Linked DNA regions of Homo sapiens. The protein of the gene in region 2 interacts with the protein of the main gene of each other region in a biochemical or structural test. Each region holds a gene or a part of one and is shown on either strand. Other genes may lie near its edges.

The links.
Region 1: the proteins of NHERF1 (region 2) and TBC1D10A form a complex in vitro, tested with the Homo sapiens proteins (2 studies listed by BioGRID and IntAct).

What each region holds. Positions count from the first base shown.
Region 1 is NC_000022.11:30,320,295-30,324,046, forward strand, and holds part of TBC1D10A (TBC1 domain family member 10A), read right to left. Parts: intron 1-3,752.
Region 2 is NC_000017.11:74,758,528-74,762,279, forward strand, and holds part of NHERF1 (Na(+)/H(+) exchange regulatory cofactor NHE-RF1), read left to right. Parts: intron 1-3,484; coding exon 3,485-3,646; intron 3,647-3,752. UniProt on the Homo sapiens protein: Scaffold protein that connects plasma membrane proteins with members of the ezrin/moesin/radixin family and thereby helps to link them to the actin cytoskeleton and to regulate their surface expression. Necessary for recycling of internalized ADRB2.

The DNA of each region.
Region 1 (3,752 bases), on a different chromosome or scaffold from region 2:
CCTGCTTGATGGCCATGACCTTTCCCTGTACTGAGACCTGCTCTGCCCTCCATACTGGAAGGGGGAGGTAGCCAGATTCCTGCTAACTCCTGCCCTGGGTGTGGGGACCTCAGGGACCTTAGGGACTTAGGGACAGTAAGCACCTGGCACCCTGCCTGCTGCCACCTTAGCAAGGTGTAGTCACTACTGGATGCAGTGTCAAGAAACAGGTTCTAGTCCCAGTTCTGCCATTTACCAGCTGGCAAACCTTGGGCACTTTTTCCTCGGTCTTCAGTACGCTCATCCACAGAATGGGGATAATCACCCCTCTCAGGGGAAGTAAGGATTCACCATGGGTTAGGGTTCATTCCTGCCGACAGGGGCTGGGCCTCACTGACACTCATCATTATAGCCAAAGATGGGAAGTAGAAAATGAAAAGATAGAACCACGAGCTGCTCCAGTCTTTAAGAGGGAGAAGAACATTCACTGAGCACCTACCCTGTATTATTAGTTCATTTAAACCTCAGAATGATCCTGCAAAGTCAGTGTTATCATAACCATTCTGCAGGTGAGAAACTGAGGCTCAGAGAAGTGAAGCAACATGTCCAAGATCACACAGCCAGCCAGATTCTGGCGCTTGTGTGAGGAGGGAGCACACAGTACCTTCTCTTGCCCACCTCGATATAAACAGATTGGGTGGCTGGGCCACAGCCAGGCCTCACTGCCCCTTGGGAGGTCCTGTTTCAGGCCCAGATGCTGGTAGGACAAAACATCAAGTAGGTGCTACCATCTTATCTCTTTCCCACAGCTTAGAGTTTCCCAGCAGGCGGACACTCAGGCACCTTCCCAGGGTAGCAGCTGGTGTGCCGGCTCCCTCCTTTACCAAGTCAGGTCTTGTCTGAGGACCTAACACTCACAGGGCCACCAAACCGGATATTCCTTCGAGGCTAAGAAGGGAAAAATGAGAGAAAATGGGAGGGCCTGCAGTCTAGAGTCACAGCCCAGGGCCCCATATGTACAAATGCCTCCTTCCAGATGGGCCACCCAGGGACCACCCCAATGCCAGCTCCATGCTCTCCTGGGATCTGTAACAGCTCAAGAAAAGTAGATGCTCTGAGTTTACTAACTAGAGAATAAGGCAAGGAGTCAGAATCTGGCCTGCCAGGAGGGCCCTGACCCCACTCCAATAAAAACTGGCACACAATAAACTATAGGGATGCCAATTAAGCCAGTTCTATGATTTCCAAAGTTGGCTAGTAATGAAAGGCCCAGGGAATGAGAACTAAAGAAGGCAATACTGCTATTCCAGATGTTTCTCCCTGGGCCCAGCTCAGATCCCTTGCTCCCATAACAGGAAGCCAACACCCATGGGATCCCAAAGAGCATAGCTCCTCACCTCATTTGGCCTGCAGACTGGGCGGACTGAGGCTGGATGGGAAGCTCTCAGCCTCAGGAGGCCAGACCTGACAATCACATAGGAAAAGGAGAAGAAGGTCAGGGACCACCTCTCTCAGGTCACCTCCCTCGGGCCAGGAGACCTGGTATAAAACTTGTATCCTTCTTTCCCTTCCCAACCACTTCCTCTATGCTACAGAAGGGACACCAAACAAGTCTGTTCTTCCTGCTCCAAAGTGACAGGAGGGGTATCATCACTCCTCCCACCCTTCCCTGCTGAAAACATCTTTTTCCTCAACTGGTCCTGGGCCTTTTTTTTTTTTTTTTTCTTTGAGACACGGTCTGTCTCACCCAGACTGGAGTACAGTGGCATGACCTCAACTCATTACAACCTCCGCCTCCCAAGCTCAAGCGATTCTCCTGTCTCAGCCTCCTGAGCAGCTGGGATTATGGGCGTGAGCCACTACCGCCTGGCTAATTTTTGTATTTTTAGTAGAGACGGGGTTTCACCATGTTGGCCAGGCTGGTCTCAAACTCCTGACCTCAAATGATCTGCCCACCTCGGCCTCCTAAAGTGCTGGGATTACGGCGGTGAACCACTGCACCCGGCCCTTCCTGGGCTTCAATGCCCCACTCGGTCTCCAGCCAAGCCAGAAGAACTAATGCTGTCGGCACTCTGATCTATGCCTATGCCACCCACAGGATCATTTACTGGCAAGCTGCTTTCTTGTCTGTGGCTACTACTCAAAAACAGACAGGGACCATCTCAGTCTCACTAAAGGTTCCCTGCGGAGTAGGCTCAAAAGACAGACAAGGTGAAGAAATGGAAAGGCCTAGGACTGGGAATCAGGAATTCCAGGTTTCTCACAGGCCTCCAGTTTATCCATCTGTATGCTGATGGCCATCTCTAAGGTCACTTTCAGCTTTTTTTTTTTTTTTTTTTTTTTTTTTTTTAGGCAAGGTCTCCCAGGCTGGAGTGTAGTGGCGTGATTTCAGCTCACGGTAACCTCCACCTCCCTGGGCTCAAGCAGTCTTCCTACCTCAGCCTCCCAAGTGGCTAGGACTATAGGTGCATGACACCACACCCAACTAATTTTTGTATTTTTTGTAGAGATGGGGTTTCACCATGTTGGCCAGGCTGGTCTTGAACTCCTGGGCTCAAGCGATCGCCTGCCTCAGCCTCCCAAAGTGCTGGAATTACAGGCGTGAGGCACAGCACCTAGTCTTTTTTTTTTTTTTTTGAGACAGGGTCATGTTCTGTCTCAAGAAAGAGCTGGGTGGAGCACAGTGGCACCATCTTGGCTTACTGCAACCTCCACCTCCTGGGCTCAAGAGATCCTCCCACCTCTCAGCCTCCCAAGTAGCTGGGATTACAGGTGCCCACCACAATGCCCAGCTAATTTTTTGTATTTTCTTGTAGAGATGGAGTTTCACCATGTTGCCCAGGCTGGTCTCGAATTCCTGAACTCAAGGAATCCACCTGCCTCAGCCTCCCAAAGTGCTGGGATTATAGGCGTGAGCCACCATGCCCTGCCACTTTCAGCTTCCTGACTTGAAATGTCTCCCCGCAAATAAGTATTAATTACTCCACCGCAGGCCTGAGGAGAAAAAGGTGAATGAGCCTCTTCCCAGTCCTGAAGCTAATCAGTCTAATGAACTGGTAATGACAACATATTCTTATCCTTCTGGGCCACTTCTATTAGCCTCATATACTGCTGAGAGAGTCGAAAGTGCTGAGCTAAGTCAGGGAAGGTAAGAGCAGGCAGGTGACTGCTAAGACACTTCTGTTCTACCTGTCTGACACCTGATATCCTGCAGGGACGAAAGGCCATATTTATGGATGGTGAAGGCAGTGGAAACTGTACTGACCTGGGAGTCAGAAACCCTAAGTCCAAGTCCTAGTTCTGCCACTAATATGCTGTGATCTTAAGAAAGTTACTCTTCTCTCTGGGCCTCAGTTTCCTCATCTATGTAAGTAAGGGCTGAGCTGGTCAATCTATTAAGATCCCTTACAGGCCAGGCATGGTGGCTCATGCCTGTAAACCCAGCACTTCGGGAGGCTGAGGCAGGTGGATCGCCTGAGGTCAGGAGTTCAAGACCAGCCTGGCCAACATGGTGAAACTCCATCTCTACTAAAAATATGAAAAATTAGCCAGGTGTGGTGATGGGTGCAATCTCTGCCTCCCAGCTACTCAGGAGGCTGAGACAGGAGAATCACTTGAACCCGGGAGGCAGATGTTGCAGTGAGTTGAGACTGCGCCACTGCACTCCAGCCTGGGTGACAGAGCGAGACTCCGTCTCAAAAAAAAAAGATCCCTTACAGTGCAGTCTATGGTTTTTTTAATCTACTCATGCCATGTAGCTAATAGTCACCTCA
Region 2 (3,752 bases):
CTGAGCAGATCCTGATTTTGTCTTGAACTTGGGTCTCCCAGGCTGTCGTCGTCACTGGAGGTCCCACTTTGCCCTCCGGAACTCACTGGGGCTATGTTCCTTTTGAGTCTCCTCCTCCCACCATGCTTCGGACCCCTCTGTAGCTGGCTCCTCCTAAGATCCTGGGGGCCACACACCAAGCCCAACATGCCTGGACGTCACTCCCATTTATCCCCTTTCCCCAGAGGCAGAACCCAGCCCTGCCCCAGCTTGGCGGTGAGGGTCCAAGAGCAATGGTGGCTGAGCTCGGCCAGGTACCCCACACCTCCCCATCTTCTCCTCTCAGTGCTGGGCCTGGAGACCACAGGCCAGGCCCCACAGATCCCCAGGGGGGCTGCCCCAAGGGACTCCCCTGCCAGCCCCAGCCTCCACCCAGGCTGGGATGGGCTGGCTTGATGGGCTGACTCAGCAACTGGCACTGACACCTCCTGGAGACAGCTGGGAGGCTCCTGCTAGGGAGGGGTGAGGAGGAACAAGGCTGGTCTCCCTTGAAGAGTGGGAACCCCCCTTCCCATGTGAGGGGAGGAAGTCTCTAGGGACTTGGGAAGGAGGCTCTGCAGGTGCATCGGAGCTGTCTAAATGCTGGTGGGGTCTACCGGGGGCTTCCCATCTCCTTGTCCAGCCACCCCCTCAGGTCCTGGAGCCGCCACAGAGCCACATCTAGACAGAACAGTGGAGCAGGTCCCAGTGCAGGGGAAGGAAACAGAGGGCACCTGAGCCCCTCAGGCTGGGTACCCTGTTTCCCCTTGAACTGCACGACTTGGTGCTGGCAGAGCGGAGCAAGGCTCAAAGCAGGCCCTGGAGCTTTGGCACCATATGTCACTAGGCGAGGGGCACTGGGCTGAAGATCAGTAAGGGAAGCCCACAGCACAGAGACCAGGGCCAGAGGATGGGCATCCCAAAGGCAGCTAGCACAGCCCTGCCCTGCCAGCCGGGGGGGGCGCCCAGAGCCACCTGCCCCCAGTCCAGCCATGCCCCTGCCCTGTCACCCACACCAGGCTTCATCCCCCAGCTCAGGCTGCAGCTCCAGCTGCGAGAGGCCCTGAGCGCCCGGAAGGAAGGCTGTGGTAGGTTGTGGTTTCTTCAGCTCCCAGCCTACCTCCAGCAGAGGCTGCAGCCGATGCCCTGGAGAGAGCCCCTGTCTGCCCTCTGCTGCCTGACTCCTGTTGGGTCCTCACCTCCCAATGGGTTGCCCCATTCTGGACTTGGATCCTTAAGGAGCACCCTGCAGTGTGGTGGAAGGAGGACAGGTTCCAAGTCAGAGACCAGGGTTGGAGTTCTGGCTGTGTGATGTCAGGCAGTGGGCTCCACATCTCTGAGCCTCAGTTTCCCCATCTCAAAAACAGCTGACAAGCCCCAGTCAGGTTGTTATGGGAAGGTTTTTGGGAGCGCAGGGACGGTGGAGGGAGGTTGGAGGAGGTCACTAGAGCTGCCCCCTGCCTGTCCTGAGATTTCACCCTCCCCACTTTCTCAGGGTGTCTGGCTGAAGCAGAAAGCTGCGCCTGTCCTGGTGACGGCGACTGGTCAGACTTGTTTCTGCTCACCTAGGCGGCCCGGGGGAGGGCCTGGCTGGGAGCTTTGTGGAGGGATTAGCTCTAGGGGAGAAGAGCCTCACTTACTCCCGGAACAAGATCCCACAGGGCTGTGGGAGTGCCGGGGGGTGAGCCTGGGGCAGGTGACAGCCGAACTAGCTGGGAGTGGGCCCTGCAGTGAGGCAGGGGGTGGGCCAGGGAGAACAAGGCAAGAGGAGCTTCATTCAGGGTTCCTGAGCCTTTGTGAGCCACTCACGTTTTTACCACTCACTTAACCGTCTTTGTTGTTGGGGTGAGGGGTCCTCGAGCCTGGATTTGGGTATGAAAACCCAGGCAAGAAAGACCTGCCCAAGCCTTTAAAGGAATGCAAAGTCATCCTCTAGCCACCCCCAGAGATCGAAAGGCTGGGGATTGAGTCTCCTGCAGATGGTGGCGGCCTCCTGGGGCTGGCAAGTTGGGACAGAGGCCCATAAGCCCTCCTGGGCGCGCCTTCCCACCCCTCTCGGCCCTCTCCACTCCCAGCTGGGGATTTGGGTTTCAGAGCAGCCTGGCACACACACCCCCACCCCACCAGAATCTCACTCCCAGCTTCCTATGACTATTCATTAGTATTCACAACAATGGGAAAGTCTGGGTGTGCACAGGGATTTTTTACAGTTAGAAAGTGTTTAAGTCAATGACCTCACTGGGCCTCAGCAACCCTGGGAGGCAGATGGCAGTCAGAATGATCCATAAATGACCTGCCCCAGGTCACACAGCTCCTAAACAGGGGAGCTGGAACCTGGCTGGGAGCCTTGACTATCCACTGCTCATTGTCTGATGTGCTGAGTGATAACACAGGGCCAGCAGGCTGGACAGCAGCCAGTGGCCCTGCACCAGGCCTGGAGGAGGGGGAGAGGGACAGGGACTCAGGCGTAGTCCTTGGGCACAGGCTTCGGCTGCCTACACCCATATTCCCTCCATCATACTGTGTGTCCAGGCCTGCAGCTTCTAAGCTGAGCTGCTTACTTTGGACCAAGCATGTTGGAAACTGTTTTCAGCTGAGTCCAAGCACTCGAAATCTGCGTGTGCCCTTTTAGTAGGTCACACCCTCCAGGCCACAGCCACACTGGGCTCCCTTTAGCCCAGCCCTGCTTTTCCCAGTCCCCTCCCCATTCAGGCTCCTCTGTTTCTGGGGTCTCTGTGCTTCCGTTGCCACCTCTGCCCTTGGGCAGCGGTGTCGGGGGAGGAGGTCCTGGAACGCCTGAGGATGGCCCCGTCTTGTCCAGGTCCCCTTGCTGTGCTGAACAATAAGTTTTTGGTTATCTGCTCCTTCTGGCTCCCTTTTGGCTGGGCCATTCGGCTTGGTGGGGGTGAGAGAGAGTTCGAGTATATGGAGGAAGGCTTTACTGTAAACACACTGACCAGCTTTCAGTAAACACCTGCCTCTTCCTCCCCTGCTGCAGAGAACGGGGTACAAAGGGGCTGGGGGTCCTCAGTCATATGCCCCAGGTCCCCAGCCAGGCTGACGGGTGCCACACTCTGCCCCCTCTCCAGGAGGGCCAGACTGAGCCACCAATGGGGAGGGATAGAGGCCCGATCAACACAGCATGTGATTCACCTTAGACTGTCAGAAGGGACAGGCATGTGAGAGCTAACCTGGTCCTACCCCTCATTTGGCAGAAGAGGAAACTGAGGCTTGGACAGAGCAGTGTTTTATCCACATCACCTAAGCAGTTAGCTGCGGTGCTGGGTATCCACACAAGTCTTTTGAGTCCTGGGCCAGAACCCTCTCAAATTGCTGTGTAGGGATCTAGGCAAATTTGCATCCTCCCAAACCTTCCTTGGTTGGGGAGATGGGGACAGGCAGAGGACAGGGAAGGCAGAACCTGGGGCACTGTGGAATAGCCATGGACCCTCCCCTGTCCCTGCAGCGCGAGCTTCGGCCTCGGCTCTGTACCATGAAGAAGGGCCCCAGTGGCTATGGCTTCAACCTGCACAGCGACAAGTCCAAGCCAGGCCAGTTCATCCGGTCAGTGGACCCAGACTCCCCGGCTGAGGCTTCAGGGCTCCGGGCCCAGGATCGCATTGTGGAGGTGATGCTTCTCGCTCTCTTCCTATCTGACTGCCCCCACCCCCTGCAGATCAGCAGCACCTGGGGCAGCCATCATACCATCATGGGCTTGATTAGCCCACGGGCAT